Regions from separate parts of the Homo sapiens genome. Here region 2 is linked to region 1. The links come from fine-mapping of genetic effects on gene expression. A gene starts in region 1. The other region holds a variant in brackets. All regions are shown on one strand. Distances are from middle to middle.

Evidence for each region. PIP is the estimated chance that this variant, and not a neighbour inherited with it, causes the effect.
Region 2: its variant is fine-mapped to the expression of VCAM1 in whole blood (TOPMed, PIP above 0.99).

What each region holds. Positions count from the first base shown.
Region 1 is chr1:100,715,593-100,725,113 of GRCh38, forward strand. VCAM1 (vascular cell adhesion molecule 1) reads left to right here and starts at 4,150. Exons shown (of 9, transcript NM_001078.4): 1 at 4,150-4,332; 2 at 4,884-5,159; 3 at 7,428-7,748; 4 at 9,032-9,298. The coding sequence starts at 4,269.
Region 2 is chr1:100,741,612-100,751,132 of GRCh38, forward strand. No RefSeq gene overlaps it. Among named protein-coding and RNA genes, the nearest start is that of VCAM1, 27 kb to the left of the region's middle. RefSeq lists enhancers at 4,355-4,444, 4,535-4,584. The variant C/A (reference allele first, on the strand shown) is at 4,773.

The sequences.
Region 1 (9,521 bases):
AAAGAATTGCTTCCACAGTGAGCCACAGTTACTGCTAAGAATGTCACTTCCCTAAGATGTGTTAGGCCACCCAAGAAAAAAGGTTCAGAATCATCTCTGCTTCAGGGAGGCTCATAATAAATTGACTAATTGGAAGTCCTGAAAGTGTTGGAGTTGCAATGCATTCAGTAGTTATTAAATAAGTGGAAAGAAGTATGCCTGAAGTATCTCAGAGCCCGATTGAGATACCAACTGATACAGCAGCATCAGAAGATGATTATAATTTTGATGTGGACAGTGAAGGGGTTGGTGAAGCTAGACTAGAAACAATGGAGAGTGCTGACCCTGATAACAGAATCTTAGCATTGGAGGGCAACTTAATGGCCATCCAGTTCTATGTCTCAAGGCAAAACTTGACTTCTACCATATTGTTCACAGATGTCATCCAACCTTTGCTTGAATACTCCAGTGATTAATAGCTAGTGAATTCAAAAGGTGATCTATTGCATTATTGAAAAGATTTAACTGGAAAGTCCTTTTTACAATCAACTTAATATGATTGTATCTTTTTTTAATTATTATACTTTAAGTTCTAGGGTACATGTGCACAATGTGCAGGTTTGTTACATAGGTATACATGTGCCATGTTGGTTTGCTACACCCATCAACTTGTCATTTACATTAGGCATTTCTCCTAATGCTATCCCTCCCCCAGCCCCCTACTCTAATTATTACCATATACCATTTATATAGCATTTTACTATATTTATTTTAAGAGATTTCATATGATCAGTGTTGATTGATAGTCATAAAATGATATGAATCACTTGAAATAATACTATCTGAGCATTTGTAAATCTGCTCTGAGAGGCTACATATAGTTGTACAAGGTTTCACAATTCCTAGGTAGAATACCTGGACTTGAAGACAAGACTATTAGACTCTGAGTCCAGATCTCCTTTAAATTGTTATATATTCAATCAGTAGGGATTTACTGAGCTCCTAGTATCTACTGGTTACTATGTTAAAAGTGCTGAAGCACTAATGGTGAACAAGACATAGACATTCTTGGTTCCTCTAGAGCTAATAATCTGGTAATTGCCTACATATGAGTTGTACTTTTAGCTTTTGGTATAGCACAGAGTAATAAGTAAATTCCTTCCCCTGTGCATTAATCATTCAGTTATCACATTGCTTCATGGGTGCCTCTTCTCTAGACAAAATATGTCCTTTTTCTTCAACATAGGAGCTATTACTTTTCTCTGGACACCCTTAATTTCGTCAGCATCTTTCTTAAGGAGTGGCATTCTGAATTAGACACCCAGGCTCCCAGTATGATCTGGTGGGTGTGTAGTGCTCAGAGACTGTGGCCTCAGAAGACTTGAAGGTTGAATTACTAGGAGTGCAACCTGGACTCATCACAGCTATTTTGATTTCTCATGGCAGTGTTCATTTTTATGGTTCGTAAAATCACAAGACCTTCTTTCTGTGAATTGTGACCAAGTCAGATCTCTCCCATACTGTACTCAAACATTGGAAACATTTAAATGCTGACCTTTAATGCATTCCTATTAAATTTTACTTCGTCATCTGGAATATTATTACATACCTTGAGGTCTTCTTTATCTTGCTTCTCTCATCTCTAAGGTTGTCTTTCCCAGTTTTGCATTATTAATAGGTTAGATAATCACGTGCTGTATTAGTTTGTTTTCACACGCTGATAAAGACATACCCAAAACCAGGAAGAAAAAGAGGTTTAATGGACTTATAGTTCCACCTGGCTGGGGAAGCCTCACAGTCATGGTGGAAGGCAAGGAGGAGCAAGTCACGTCTTACATGGATGGTGGCAGGCAAAGAGAGAGAGCTTCTGTATGGGGAACTGCTCTTTTTAAAACCGTCAGCTCTTGTGAGACTTACTCACGATCATGAGAACAGCACGGGAAAGATTTGCCTCCATGATTCAGTTACCTCCCACAGGGTCCCTCCCACAACACATGGGAATTCAAAATGATATTTCAGTGGGGACAAGGCCAAACCATATTATGTGCTTTATGCTACTAATAAAAAGGTTAAACCGAACAAGTTCAAAGACAAAACTCAGTAGTACTTTATTCAGACAGGTTAGTCTAAATCTGTTAACCTTATACTTGCAACTCTGATCATTCATTAATTCTGCAAATTTTAATAAATGCTTTATTTTAAGCTAAATGCTGAGATGAAAAAATGAAACCATATGAGTTAGCAAAGTAGAAAATATAGGCATATTAATCAGTAAATGCAGAATGATAAATGCTCCATCAATATGCACTTGTTGTAGTGAGGCCACCGAGGAGGGTGCAATCCTCTCAACCTGGGAGGAGCAGGTAGGACTTCAGATGTCATCCAACTCAAAGATATAGTGAGGGACTTGATCAAACATTTGCCAAGACCACTATGAGTTAAATGAATAGATTAGGCATTTCTCCAATGTTGCAAGCTTCGAATCATATCCAAACTCAGAACAACATAGCTTGGTCATAATGATCCCAAGGATCCTATTGGCCATTGTCTTTGAGCCTCAAAGGAACATATTAAAACTCCATAATACCCTTTTGATCTATTCTGAAGTTAAGTAGTGAATTTACATGATGATGACACAAACACTGTAAAGGACCTCTGGGTTACTTGTTTATAAGCTAGTATTTCCTGAATCAATTTTTCTGATCCCTAGATATTTGGTAGGTGAAGTCATACCTATATATCCCCACACCCTAGAACAGCATCTCCAACTTATTTTTCCCTCCTTGTCTTTTAGTGGGAGCCACATCAGTATCCAAGAGGAGATCCAGAAGCCTCTCCAACCAGGTAGGGACAGTTATAGATTCCAGACCTCAGCTATGGCCTTTGTTACAGAGTACAAATGTTATATAGTACAAGTTTATTGTACACATCCCATTGAGTCTCTGAGCTTTAGAATTTTCTTGTAGAATTTAACAGTTTTTTCATGCCGTATTTACATATTATTGCTAGTATTTAGAATTTTCTTCTCCAAATGTATAACGTTTATTATTGCATTTTTTGTATCCACTAAGTGGAAAATCATGCATTAGATATTGTAGAAGTAGATACAACAATGAACAAGAACTGGTCCTGACCATGAGAGGAACTGATGATCCAATGGGGGAGATAGACCTGCACGTGTTTAATAAAAGGAAGTGGCTATTCCGGTTTCTTTTTGATGGGCAAGCATTTTGCAAGGCCTTGGGCTATGTGTGTGCAAGGCTAAGCCAGTTAGTTAATTGGGATTTTTTTAAAAAGGCACTTCACTGGGGGGAAAAGGAACATAGAGTTGGTTATTGTCCCCTTGCCTATAATAAAAACCTATTATTTTTAATTTTTTAACTGGGTTTGCGGTTAAATCTCACAGCCCAAGAGATTTGCCACTTCAGATGGATTCCATACACTTGCATTTAAGTATGCAAAAAAATTCCAATTATCCAGCAATTTAACCAAATTATTGGTAACTTTTCTAAAACAAAAAAAAATTGTTTCCCTTGTTTTGGCAGCAATTTCAGTTACAGTCCTTTACTTTCTACTCAAGAAAATAGTTTCAAAAAGTTGATGTTTGTTGCTAAAAGAACTATTTTTATGAATAAATATAAAACTAAGAAGTTATGGTGTCCCTTTTTTAAAAAATGACTCATCAAAAGAAATAACTTTTTCCTTTCTCTTGTAAGAGAAAAAAATTAATCTCTTTTAGAATTGCAAACATATTTCCTTGATGGAGAAAATCAATTCACATGGCATAGTCGTTATTTATCCAGTTCAAAAACCAGAGTAGAATTTACTACTCTGTCTCCATTTTTTCTCTCCCCACCCCCTTAACCCACATTGGATTCAGAAAGCTTCATTCTGCAATCAGCATTGTCCTTTATCTTTCCAGTAAAGATAGCCTTTTGGAGTCGAAGATGAGGAAAAGCCTGTATTTTATAGTCTTGGAAGTGTCTTCTTTTGCCAGGACAGAGAGAGGAGCTTCAGCAGTGAGAGCAACTGAAGGGGTTAATAGTGGAACTTGGCTGGGTGTCTGTTAAACTTTTTTCCCTGGCTCTGCCCTGGGTTTCCCCTTGAAGGGATTTCCCTCCGCCTCTGCAACAAGACCCTTTATAAAGCACAGACTTTCTATTTCACTCCGCGGTATCTGCATCGGGCCTCACTGGCTTCAGGAGCTGAATACCCTCCCAGGCACACACAGGTGGGACACAAATAAGGGTTTTGGAACCACTATTTTCTCATCACGACAGCAACTTAAAATGCCTGGGAAGATGGTCGTGATCCTTGGAGCCTCAAATATACTTTGGATAATGTTTGCAGCTTGTAAGTTATTTCCCTTCATCTGTTTCAAATGTTAGCATTCAATTTTAGCCCTGGTTTTGGCTTCAGTCAGTTTTGCGATAGTAGTGAAGTAAAGACACTAGGATTTTAAACAGTAGGAAAAGTTAATTTAGTCTAACTTTTAATATGCAATTGAGTTTTGCTATATACCATTGTACTGTCATAGTTAGAGCTGAAAATTGATGTTTTTGGTATCTTTTTTTCCAAAGGCAATTGAGTAATTTGGATTCTGTCTCTAGTCGGTCTGTCTCTTTAGTTTCCTATACTTGACAATGAGGTCAAACTTAGCAAATAACAAAACAGCTTTGATAAATGGGCATCAAGGTTGGAACTGAGAATTCTCTCTACTGAAGATGATTCCATAAACTTTTTTGGCAGTGACTTCGGTGCTTTTTGGCTACCTTGCAGTTAGTTTGAAGCAGCTTAGGAAAGAGATCAGTCTGATCATATTTTAGACATTATACAGAGAAGAAGGAGGAGAATACTAGACAAACTAGTGGTAAATTTGCTTCTGTCTTTTTTTGCTTTTGCAGCTCAAGCTTTTAAAATCGAGACCACCCCAGAATCTAGATATCTTGCTCAGATTGGTGACTCCGTCTCATTGACTTGCAGCACCACAGGCTGTGAGTCCCCATTTTTCTCTTGGAGAACCCAGATAGATAGTCCACTGAATGGGAAGGTGACGAATGAGGGGACCACATCTACGCTGACAATGAATCCTGTTAGTTTTGGGAACGAACACTCTTACCTGTGCACAGCAACTTGTGAATCTAGGAAATTGGAAAAAGGAATCCAGGTGGAGATCTACTGTGAGTGCTTTAGAAAATCTTTGTTTTTCTCTCAATTTTACTTTAAAATCACTTTTTAAAAATGATATTTTAAAAAAAGTTTTAAAATGGATATTCATGTACAGATTCTTGGCTAAAGAACATACAACATCAGGAAAGCTAGGGACAGCTAAGGCCAACATGAGAGAGAGCAGGAATCCAAATCTTGGCTTCTATTTCTACCTCTGCCACAAACACAGTGACCATGTATAAGACTCAACCTCTCTGGGCTCTGGTTTCCTTAGCTGTAAAATGATCATTTCTAAGTTTCTTTTTGTTTTATTAAAAAATATTTCCATTTGATTACATCCTTACATGTTTACTTGCTTATGTGTCTGATTGATTTATGAATTCCATCCTTCAGGGATTTTCTATTCATTTATTCTTATGCAATTTGATGCTTAAAATTAGTTTAAACATTAAGTAGATCTATAATTAGTAATATGTATTAGTATAAAAGTGTTCTTCTTAGACATAATTGTTAATATCTGGAAACATTTCAATCATTTGACTTTGGTGTTGACACATTTAGGATTTTTTTTTGGTTTTTTTGGTGCCATGAAGCCTTGGTGCTCAACCGCTCAACTTCAAAGATATTTATATAATGAACTAGATTTGCCTCATGAAAGTGAGTGGATGTCCCTAGTTTACCAGCCTGACAAAATGCATCCCACTCCATTCTCCATTCAGCAAACAAAGTTAGCAAGAGGAGTAAAAAACTAACCAGACATAAATCATTTGCCTTTTGTTACTGATGGCCTCTCTTTCTAAAAAACTGAACCCATTTACGGTCATGTCTTCATGAAGACCTCATTTGATTATAATTACTTTGGTTTCGTTTTATTGTACCGGAGCTCAACTTTTCCCAGTAACCTTAATTGATTCTGCAACAAACCGCATGTGTTGCTCAAGCTTCCCAAGAAACTGTGCTTGGCCGGCTGCTTTCAATTATGCTGGTTGTATGTGCATAGTTTATGTCTGTGCAGCCTCCCGAGCTCCTTGAAAGCTTCCCTTATGTAAATACAGGGAAAAGTAGCAAGTTCTTATGTTACCTGACATCGAACTGTGTGGATTAGAGGAACATTTCTTACAGAATATGAGGGACAGAAATTATTGCTGGAAAAATGAAAAATACCATGTTTCTTCACATAGGAAAGAATTTCCAGCTCCTTTGTCTTTTGCCCACTAGTACCAAATAGTTGAAGATTTAAGAAAGAGAAATGAAGACGCTTCTGGTTTTAATTATCTTGCCTGAGGTTTTTCTCCAAGAGTGTCTGTTTCTCATTATGTATAACAGTTCTGTCTCCTTTCCGCATTTGATTGTAATAGTGGTTAGAGTTGAGACCTTTGTATTCTTTTTGCTACACAGTTTTGAATCCACCAATATGTTACTTCATCATAATGCATAATGAAAAAGGTAACTCTTGCAAAGGAGGCAATGGCCACGTGAAGTAGTGTATTTCCTTGTACTAGAAGCTTCAATGGAACACTTGTTGGGATAGTGAGTTAGGCATTTCAGGAGGCAAATATGTGTTCCAGAACATAAAGATTGCACAAATGTATCTTTCTGGTGGATGAATTCCTGTCAGAGGCACCATTTTCAGAAGCTAATTACTTAAAGTTGGTCTTCTCATTTCTTAGAATATCTTGACAATAACTATTCTTTGCAATGACATTCCAAGGCTTACAGTCATTATCTGTAAAATGGAAATATATCTGCCCTGACTATAATAAGAAAATGTGATGTAACATAATGTAAATCTGTAGTAGCAAAACACAATAATGGAAATCCTGAGTTTAAATCCCAGCTTTACCATTTACTAGGTGTGTGACCTTAGACAAGTTATGTAAATGTACTAAGTCCAGGTCTTCTTTTCTGTGAAATGTGATCTCTATCTCCTAGAGTTATTGTGAGGATAAAATGAAATCATTCATGTTAAATCTATAGCACAGTGACAGCCACATGTAAGGTTCAATATAAACATTATTTTTTCTTCTTTCTTTTACTGTAATAACATGCAACTCTTAATATATACAGGATCAGAATTGAATAATGTTGTAAAAAATGTTTGCTTCCAATTCTTGTGCCTTGAACTCACCCCAAATCATGAAAGGCTATTCAAACAGTTCTGTCGTATTAAGACTGTATTAACAAAAACGCTAGACTTGATTTGTATTGTGTTAAAGTGGTAAGAGACCTTATATCACATTAGCAAAAAGCCCATCCATGTATTTGTTTGGCCTTTTCAGCTTTTCCTAAGGATCCAGAGATTCATTTGAGTGGCCCTCTGGAGGCTGGGAAGCCGATCACAGTCAAGTGTTCAGTTGCTGATGTATACCCATTTGACAGGCTGGAGATAGACTTACTGAAAGGAGATCATCTCATGAAGAGTCAGGAATTTCTGGAGGATGCAGACAGGAAGTCCCTGGAAACCAAGAGTTTGGAAGTAACCTTTACTCCTGTCATTGAGGATATTGGAAAAGTTCTTGTTTGCCGAGCTAAATTACACATTGATGAAATGGATTCTGTGCCCACAGTAAGGCAGGCTGTAAAAGAATTGCAAGTCTACAGTAAGTACTTGTGCGATGTGTTCCAGTCTTTGTGGGAATCCCACCTTGGTTGTGTATAGCAATAAACTTAGCAGAAAAGTAAAAAAAAAAAAAACTTGTATATAGTTTGTATTCCATTTGTATTCATTCACAACATAATGTTTGTCAATAGTATAATTCAGTGAAAAGAACACTGGATTTGGACTGAGAAGGCTTGAGCTTAATTTCTGGCTCTATTAACTGTGTGAGTTTGGGTTACTTAATTTCTCTATTTCCCAGTGTATAAAAGGGGAATAGTAATACCACCTGATTGGGTAGTGGGAAATAGGCTCAAATGATAAAACATTTTAATATTGTTTTGTAAACTCTTATAGTATGCCTTGAACTATTAGTTGCACAGGTACAGAAACTTGACAAGGTGATCACTTATTCTGTGTGTGTATGTGTGTGTGTGTATGCATATGCACATACATACATAGGTGCACTGGACAGGGGAAAAATGACGGGGTTTGATTGCCTCCAATCTCCCTGATACTGCCAGGGGATTTGTGGGAGTCTTGTAGTCCCAGCGTTGTGTAGGAGTGGCCTCACTGTGCTCTGTTCTGGACTAAAATGCTATGTTCTGCACTGGGTACCACATTTAAAGGGAGTATTGCCAACTACGGCATGTTTAGCTGAAAGAGAATGAGCTGGGAAGGCTTTTAACAATATTTTGAGAAGAATAGTCAAGATAGAGGATATTTTTCTGAAGAGAAAACAAAACCTGGCTGGAAAAGACATCTAATTAAGCATTTGAAAGACAGTTATATGAAAGAGTGATTTACCTTATTCTGTAACAGCACAGGGCTGAATTATGGCCAATATGTTTAAAATAGTATAGAGAGAAGATTTCAGCTCAATAGGGAGAAATGTGCTAATATGTAGAGCTGTCCAAAAATCAAATTGACTCTTTTGGAAAGCAGTGGGTTGATTCTCTCAGTAAATGTTGAAGCTGACTTGAATGGGCACTTGGCAAGAATGCTTAAATGGGACTCTTACCCTTAAGTGGGAGGTTAAGCCACATGGTTTTTCTTAATTTCTGAGTATCTACAACCATCTGAAAAATATGAAACATCAACTAAACTTGATCAGTTTAGTCAGAAACTGGATAGACTATTTTGAATGATTCAGCAGTTCTTTATACTAATTTGGCAGAGTAATTTCATCAAATTGGTGGAAGCACATAAATACTAAGAGAAATACATTACCTCTGTTGCACTGGGATGATGCTTAGCAATTGCTAATATTATTTTTTGCCCTTTCAGTATCACCCAAGAATACAGTTATTTCTGTGAATCCATCCACAAAGCTGCAAGAAGGTGGCTCTGTGACCATGACCTGTTCCAGCGAGGGTCTACCAGCTCCAGAGATTTTCTGGAGTAAGAAATTAGATAATGGGAATCTACAGCACCTTTCTGGAAATGCAACTCTCACCTTAATTGCTATGAGGATGGAAGATTCTGGAATTTATGTGTGTGAAGGAGTTAATTTGATTGGGAAAAACAGAAAAGAGGTGGAATTAATTGTTCAAGGTGAGTAGAATGTGAAAAAGGAATGATAAAGGTGCTGTCAGTGGGATTTGAGCAATAGTCAACACAGCTTCAATGCTGAAATTGCTTCCCTTAGTTTCACTGATGACCTATCTGATTGCCATATCCTTTAGCACAAATATATGTTTATCTTACTAGTACTCTGTGGAAGTCTTCCCTCCCAGAGTTTCCATGGCTCTGCTTTTCTGATTCTTTTTCATCTCAT
Region 2 (9,521 bases), 26 kb after region 1:
TTTTCTTTCAGTAATTGCAGTGGCTTGCGTTTTCATTTTTTTTTTTAACAGTGGCTTTGCCTATCCCAAGGCAACAAAGATTTTCTCATTCATTTTTTTCTAGAGGCATCATACTTTTAGTTTTACATTTATGTCTATGACCCAATCCAAATTAATTTTGTGTATGATGTGAGGCCATGGTGAAAGTCATTTTTGCATATGTGTATTCAACCATTATAGCACATTTTGTTGAAAGGACTTTTTCTCTCATGAATTACCTTGACATTTTTGCAAAGAATCGATTGGCCATATTTATGTGGGGCTTTTTTTTTTTTTTTTTGAGACAGAGTCTTGCGCTGTCACCAGGCTGGAGTGCAGTGGCATGATCTGGAGTGCAGTGGCATGATCTTGGCTCACTGCAACCTCTGCCTCCCGGGTTCAAGCAATTCTCCTGCCTCAGCCTCCTGAGTAGCTGGGACTACAGGCAGTGTGTGTGGGGCTATTTCTGAACTTTCTTTTGTGTTCCATAGATTGATATATCTCTTCATACACAATATGACACTATCATGACTACTGTAGCATTATATTATAAGCCTTGAAATCAGATAGTGTGAGATTTCCAATTTTAAACTTCTTCAAAAATTTTTGGCTAGATTAGATCCTTTGCCTTTCCATATGAATTTTAGAATCTGCTTGTCAACTTCTGTAAAAAATCCTGCAAGTATTTTTGATTAGGATTCATTGAATCTATACGTTAATTTGGGAAGAATTATCATCTTAAAAATATTGAGTCTTCCAACACACATATGTATAATTTCATCTTCTTAGGTCTTCTTTAGTTTTTTTTCACCAATGTCTTACTGTTTTCAGTGTGCAAGTCTTATACATTCTTGGCTAAATTTATCTTTAAGTATATCATTGTTTTTGATGTGGTTATAAATGATATTGGTTTTTAAATTTCAATTTCCAGTTGTTTGTTCCTAATATATGAATATGCAATCAATTTTGTATACTGATTGGGTATTCTTCAACCTTGCTAAACTCCCTACTTCAGTTCTAGTAGTTTTTCGTAGATTCTTTAAGATTTTCTACATAGATGATCATATCTTCTGAGAATATAGACAGTTTTACTTCTTTCTTTTCAACTTATATTCTGTTACCTTTATTTATTTCACTGGCTAGAACTTCCAGTAATACGTTGAATAAAGGTAGATAAAGCAGATATTTGTGCTTTAGTCCTAATCTTAGGAAAAAAGGCATTAGGTCATTTACATGTATGATGTAAATGTTATGATGTAAAATGTATTTTAACTGTGATGTTAACTGTGAATTATCTTAGATGCTATATCAGGTTGAAAATTCCCTTCTATTCTTTGTTGTTGAGAGATTTTTATAATAAATAGATATTGAATTTTGTCAAATACTTGGTATACATCTATTGAGATGATCATGTGGTTTTTCTTGTTTCTTTTTGTGTCTGTTAATATAGAAAACGGCATTAACTGTTAAATATTGAATGAACTTTTTTTCATTACTGAGGTTAGCTCATTTGGTTGCACCTGTGTTAATGAAGAAAGTTGATCTGCAGTTTTTTTTTCTTGTAATATCTTTTGTCTAGTTTTGGTATAAGTAATGCTAGCCTCATAGAATGAGTTGGAAAATATTTCCTCCTATTTCATTTTTAGGGACATTTTCTGTAAAATTGGCCTTATTGCTTCCTTAAACATTTAATAGGATTCACTAGTGAAGCCATCTGGGCCTGGAGTATTCTTCCTGGGAAAGATATTAGCTACAAATCCAATTTTTTGGCTGGGCGCGGTGGCTTACGCCTGTAATCCCAGCACTTTGGGAGGCTGAGGTGGGCGGATCACGAGGTCAAGAGATTGAGATCATCCTGGCTAATGTGGTGAAACCTTGTTTCTACTAAAAAAAAATTAGCCAGGTGTGGTGGCAGGTGCCTGTAGTCCCAGCTACTCGGGAGGCTGAGGCAGGAGCATGGCGTGAATCCAGGAGGTGGAGCTTGCAGTGAGCCAAGATTGCGCCACTGCACTCCAGCCTGGGCAACAGAGCAAGACTGTCTCAAAAAAAAAAAAAAAAAAAAAAATTCAAATTTTTTTTCGCTTGACCACTGACTATTTCAGTTTCCTATTCTTGTTGAGCAAGTTGTGGTAGTTGGTGTCTTTCAGGAAATTTATCCATTTCATTTCAGTTGGGTTTACTGCCATTAAGTTGTTTATAATATAAAACATTATTATGCCTTTAATAACTGAAAGATCTTTACAAAGCATTTTGATCTAAAGGAAAGGGGGAACACATCCCATTAAAAATCTGTGATATACAGCTAAAGCAATGCTTAGAGTGTAATGTATAGCACTAAATGTCTACATTGTAAACAAGGTCTCAAATCAATGATCTATAGTTGTACATAGGAAACTAGAGAAAGGAGATAAAATAAAACTCAAAGTAATCAGGGAAAAGGAAAATTTAAAGATAACATTAAAAATAATAAACAGGCAAACAGTGATTCAATAAAACCCAAAACTGGTTATTTGAGAAAAATAGCAAAATTCATAAACCTCTAGCCAGACTGATATTGGGAATGAGAGAGAACACATCACTCCAGATCATGTAGACATTTGCAGGAAAATAAGAAAATTATAAACAAGTTTATGCCAATAAATTTGACAACAATGGACAGATTCCTTGAAAGAAACAAATTATCAAAGCTCATTGAAATGGAATAGACAATGTGAATAGCTCTATATCTAATAAAGAAGTTAAATGTGTGGTCTCAAAAGAAAACTCCAGGCCCAGGTGACTTCATTGGTGAATTCTACCAAACATTTAAAGATGAAATATTACCAATCTTACATAAATTCTTCCTGAAAATGGAAAACGAGGGCCTTTTTTTAATATCAGGACTTCAACTGATTAAATGAAGCCCACCTACAAACTAATCCGGAGTAACAAAAGGCAACAGATCAGTGGTTGCTTTGGGGCAGGATGGGAGGTAGCGAGGGATAAATTGCAAAGGAGCACAAAGAAAATTTTTGAATGATGGATATTTTATAATACTAATTGTGGTGATAGTTTCATGGATTTCACATATGTCAGACATCAAATCGTATAGTTTAGTATGTGCTGTTTATTATATATCAATCATACCTCTATAAAGCTGTAAAAAATAAAATATTTAAAAAGAATCGCCAGGTGCGGTGGCTTACACCTGTAATCCCCGCACTTTGGGAAGCCAAGGCGGGCAGATCACGAGGTCAGAAGATCGAGACCATCCTGGCTAACACGGTGAAACCCCGTCTCTACTAAAAATACAAAAACAAAATTATCTGGGCGTGGTGGCGGGCGCTTGTAGTCCCAGCTACTCAGGAGGCTGAGGCGGAAGAATGGCGTGAACCCGGGAGGCAGAGCTTGTAGTGAGCTGAGATCGTGTCACTACAATCCAGGCTGGGTGACAGAACGAGACTCCGTCTCAAAAAAAAAAAAAAAAAGAATCTATGATATCATATATACACATTTAATACATAAAATAGAATTATGTATACTGTGGATATATCCCCAAATACATTAAACTAGTATTTTAAAAATTGTACCTTTTTTGACAATAAGATCTGGAAATGTTAAGTTTTGTTCTTTTATTTCTTTGACTTTTCCAATCTGTCCCCTCTTTACCACAAATATCCACATTGCTATGGAAGATTTCAGATCGGTACAAAAAATGCAAATAGAACAGTTAATGAACTCTTTTTAGACTTCAAAGGTAGTTTCTTGAACTATGACTACATACAACAACATGGGTGACTCTCACAAAAAGAAGTAAAAGAAACAATTGGTAAAAGAGACCATACTATATAATTTCATTTATATGTAGCTCAAAAGCAGGCAAAACTAATACATGGTGTTAAAAGTCAGGATATTAGTTACTCCTTTGGTTACAGTGACTAGAAGGAGTAGAAGAGCTCCTTTTGGGTTCTGTTTTTGTTCTGTTGCTTGATCTGGGTGGTGGAATTTTTAATAAAAATTTACATTTCATAGGCAAATTCTTGAAAATCAAGAGCCTAGACGGATGGGGGGATTAGAGTGTATGCATTGGAAAGAGAGCAAAGAGAGAAGCAAATTACCTTGCCCACCTCCCTCCCACTTTTCATCTATCCTGGGTAATGAGAAGGAGAGTTATGTGATAAGACTTTATAGGAGACAGTATAACTTGTGTTCAAAGGGATAACGTGGCATAGAGAGGCCTCAGATAAAGGAGAGATTTCAACACAGAGAGAATGGCAAACACGAGGAAGACTCCTGCAAGCTGAGCCAAGGCATTCAGAGAGACCATACTTGCCTTACACTAGAAACCATCACATCTTTGCAGGGAAGCCAAGTCAGCTGTGCTCATCACTGCCTAGAGATGGATGCCTAGTAAACAGCTGCCTATAAACCCTTTTCATTTTCGAGTAAGATGCTGTACATGACCTGAAGTTTTGCTGAGTCCTAGCCCTTGTCAATAACCCAGGGCACTATAAAGTCCCCTTAAGGACAGGGTTAGATTCTTTATTCTTGCTGATTTTGGTTAGGAGGGGCTTTAGGCTGGGCGCGGTGGCTCACCACCTGTAATCTCAGCACTTTAGGAGGCCAAGGCAGGCAGATCACTTGAGCCCAGGCGTTTGAGACCAGCCTGGGCAACATGACGAAACCCCATCTCTACCAAAAAGTACCAAAAAATTTGCAAGGAGTGATGGCTCATACCTGTACTCGCAGCTACCCAAGAGGCTGAGGTGGGAGAA[C/A]CACATGAGCCCAGGAAGTCGAGGCTGTGGTAAGCTGTGATCACACCACTGCACTTCAGCCTGGGTGACAGAGTGAGACCCTGTCTAGAAAGAAAGAAAAAGGAAAGAAAAGAAGGAAAGAAAGAGAAAGAAAGAAAGAAAGAAAGAAAGAAGGAAAGAAAGAGAAAGAAAGAGGGAGGGAGGAAGGAAGGAAGGGAGGGAAAGAAAGAAAGCGAGCCTTTAAAGGGACGTCACAGAAATGAGATGGGTAAAGGAAGGCAGGCAAGTCTTAGACCTGGATGGTAGCTGACAACTTTGGGGAAGAAGAAAACTTTTTTCCCTGACTCTCCTGGTCTCTGAAGTGGGAGTGATTGCTGTTGGATGCAATCACCTTCTCTGGCTGACTGCCATTAAAGTGAAGCATAGAAGATACTTGCCAGGGCTTTCCCTCTGCAGCAGATATTGTTTATAAATCGGAATATGAAACTATCTCATTTATTTGTCCAATATTCTACTGGGAAGGAAGTAAATGGTTGATTTCAGTGGAGATACACTAGCACTTTCATAATATTATAATATTATATCAGTAAACTTTTAGTAACCTCATAGATTTCATTGTCTGGTTTTCTTAGAAATGGATTCAAATCTCACTGTAGACTTTTGATAGTATTGGTTCTCAGCTGCTAGAATATTTTCTGAATTTATGGGAAACTTGCAATCTCTTATTCTGATTTTGTGGTAGTCAAACCATGACTAAATAACAGGTTGAAAAAATTCATGGCAGTCTACATCATGTAACCATCACCATCACCTTTTCTGCTCTGGATGAATAATGTAGGAAAATTATCAGACAGAAATCAAGATTGCTTACAAATAAAGAAAAGTCTATACAGGCTCACAAACATTTCTTGAGGAAATGCATGTTCAAATAATGATCTAACAAAGAAATTTTTTAAAGTCTGTTTCCCATATTGAATCCTCAGAAATGTCTCTTTTGCTCTGCTAATTGCAGATTTGGGGAATATGCTAGTACCAATCAAAGTGACCACTAAAATTACTGGGGAAGGCAATAACTGGGGTCAATCATCTTATATATTAAGGAGCTTCAGTTTTCTTTTGTGTAAAATTAAGAGTTTTGGCCAGATAAACTTTAAGATCCCTTCCAATGGGTAACTTTTTCCCCTCACTTTATTTTAGATAAAGTTTTCTTACATTTAGCCAAACAGAGGCCTAGGGAATCTTTTTTGTATCCTTTGCTTAATCAACTTCAATGGAGTCTTGAGGAGAAAAATAAAATATTTAAACTAATCCTAACACTAACAAGTAATTTCTGCTATGGATTCATAATGGCCAGGCTTCCCTGCAGAGAGAAAAGGAACATTTGTAATGCTCTTGGGAAAAGCTTTTGTTTTAGTCACAATGATAGTGAAAATTTCACTTCTGAAAAAAAAAAAAAAGAAAAAAAAAAGTGTGCCCTGGCTTTTCAGGCTTTGCTGCTATTGAAGAGCATGGTTTCTCTCAAAAGGGGCTAATCTGCAAGGCTTGCTTGAGAAGAGTATAACAAATTGAATGGAACCAAATGTCTGGGTTTTTTAGTGAAGAACAATGCTATCAGGAGAGAGCATTTTATTGTTTTTAGTTCTTTTCTCATTGAAAGGGACTTTGGGGGCATTATGGAGCAGTAAAACATTGCAAAGGCAATGTTTCAGTCTTGAAAAGAAGAAGAATGAGGAGACGACATTGATTTTGTGGGTAAGGCGGGCATGGTGAATCACCACTAAATTGAATTGTATTGTGATGAATTTTAACTAACTTTCTCAAATGAAAGTTTTAGTCTATGTAAAAAGATTTTTAAAATCAGAATTTGTAATTAAGACTGTTATGACTACTTTTCTTCTTTTCTTTAATCCAGCCTGCATGCAATTACAATTCATTCAATTACCAGGACATTGAATATTATTATGCTAAATCTAACAAGAAGGACTATTAAATATAGAACCTTGAATGCATGATAAAAATGAACATTATTACTTTGGCTTGGGGTCATATCTGGTACTTAGAAATTTAGAAATATTCACATGAATCCTACTTAAAAAGCAGCAGACTCAAGGAGTTGCTTTTCACTGGGATTTCTGTCGTTGTCTTGCCAAGTTTTATGGACACTCGACATTTTTGTGAAAATAATTTCATGCTCCCAGGCAGAAAACTGAAAAAGCCAGTTTATTTTGCCTTGTGACAATCTCATAAAGCCTTGCTTCTTATTTGTTTGAGTTCCTCTTATTTAAATGGTCTAGTCATTTTTGAGTTAACTCTTAATGTTACACACTTGCCATTTACTAGTGTCCTGGCAGTATTTCCCAACTCTCCTCATCATGAGAATTTCATGGGGTACTCATTAAAAATAGAGAGTCTTGTGCACTATTCCAAACCTACTGTTATAGACTCCGTTAGGTGGGGCCTGGAAATTAAATTTTTAAAAATATCCGCAGTGATTTTTATGCCTATATTTGGGAAACACTGTTCTAATAAAAGTAAGTGTTTACCCTAGAAGGTATTAATTGAACCTTGAGTTTTGAAAAGACCTTTCCTGTCTAAGGCTAAGCTTTTTTTTTTTTTTTTTTTTTTTTTTTGAGAGAGAACCTCACTCTGTTGCCCAGACTGGAGTACAGTGGTGCGATCTTGGCTCACTGCAACCTCCAACTCCCGGGTTCAAGCAATTCTCCTGCCTCAGCCTCCCGAGTAGCCTGGACTACAGGTGCCCACCACTACACCCAGTTATTTTTTGTATCTTTTGTAGAGACAGGGTTTCACTGTGTTGGCCAGGCTGGTCTCAAACTCCTGACCTCAGGTGATCCGCCCACCTCAGCCTCCCAAAGTGCTGGAATTACAGGCTTGAGCCACCACACTCAGCCATTAAACTTTCTTTCAAATTTACAACTGCCTCTTCTTATATTTTCTGGAAACAGTCTCTCATTCAAACACTTTTTCCTGTCTTCAACCCCTATCTCTACCAGCCCTTATAAGACTAGTTCACTAGTAATATTTTCTTAACTAATAAAATGGGGATAATTTTGAAATGTAAAGCTATTTTCATTTCTGATAATCTCTAATTTCTGCTTGTCCCACAGTTTCTCCACTCAGCCATTCATTGTTTCATGGAGGCAGAGAGAAGCCAGGTGAGAAAGAATCATTGCTCAGTTTGAGATTTCAACCAGATTTATTTAAATCCACAGGAATACAATGGCTTTATAAGGAAGACTATATAGAAAGTAAGACACTTTTCTACATTCCAGAAATTCTTCTAATATAGTAAGAGCTTCAAGATATAGTGTAATAAACCAGAATATAGAGAAGATGAAAAATGTACAGTAGGCCCCTGATACACAGATGGGGAGAAAGCTCTTCTACTACTGGGAAGAGAAGCCAAGAAAGAAAAAAGTGACAAGATATTAAACACAAATGTCCTTGCTGCTCTCTGCTTTGGGATCAAATATGGGAGGGGCAATGGAGTAGAATCATTTAAATATTTTTGAGGGAACTAAAGAAGCATTGGAATTAGTACTCCCCTTCCCCACAAGTGGAAGCTTCTCAAAGAAGACTTGCATTTTCTAATGCAGCATGGGAGCAATAGAGAAGCATAGGAAAAGAGGCCTGAGGAGGTTAGCGGACAAGAAGTGACCTGGAACTGGAATTAGAAAACCACAAAGTGTGGGAACATTATGACCAGACAAAATGGCAAGGTCTACAGTTCTCAGTAGTTAATAATGTGATGCCAAGATTAGGCGGGACCAGCTACACTGGCAACACTGCACAGGACAATGGTTATCCAGCAGAGGTCAGAATGCGCCAGCAACAGCTTGGGGAGCACAAGACTCCCACTGCCTCCATATGCCCCATGGCACCCGGGAGGAGGAAAGGAGGGCAGGGAAGGAATATTGAAAGGATCGGTAAATATGAAAAAATGCTTTTAAAGTGAAAGAAATGCTTTCAATTAATTGAAGTACTTTTTCTGGTATCAACAGAAATGATGAGTCATGGCAAGAGCAAATCAATGCTAGGTAATAAAGGTTTTTTTGCACATCTGAATTGTAGTGTGAAAATTTCAGCCTGTCATAGCACCAAATGCAATCTGTTTTTATTCGTCCTGTTTTCAGCGTTGATAGTTGACCACTCCGTAATCCTTAAATCTATTTTTATTACATCACATTATACTAGTTTTTCTCTTGTTTCTCTGGCTCTTACTTCCCTCACAACCTTCTTTCATGTATTCTTTGAATGTTGTACCATGGATTCCATACTCAGTTCTCCTTTCATTTTAGATACTCTCCCCTGATGACCTCATCTTTCTTACGGTTTCAATGGTCATAATTTCAAATATACATTCTAAGACTCAGCCTCTCTGCTTCCTGAGATCTATTGGTCATCTCCATAGATATCTCATAAGCATCTCAATTTCCATCTGCCTCAAACTGTTCCCCTAGTTGTTCACAGAATGAGCTGGAAAGTGTTCTTTCCTGTTCAATTTTCTGTAACATTTTCTGGAGAATTAGTAATATTTCTTCCTTAAATGCTTTGTAGAATTTATCAGTAAACAATCTTGATCTAAAGTTTTTTGGTGGAAGATTATTAACCAAAAATTTAATTTTAAAAACATATACAGGGCTATTTAGTCTATCAATTTCTTTTTAAGTGAGCTTTGGTAGTTGTGACTTTCAAGACAATTGTCTATCCCATCTAAGTTTTAACATTTATTGGCATTAAGTTGTTCCT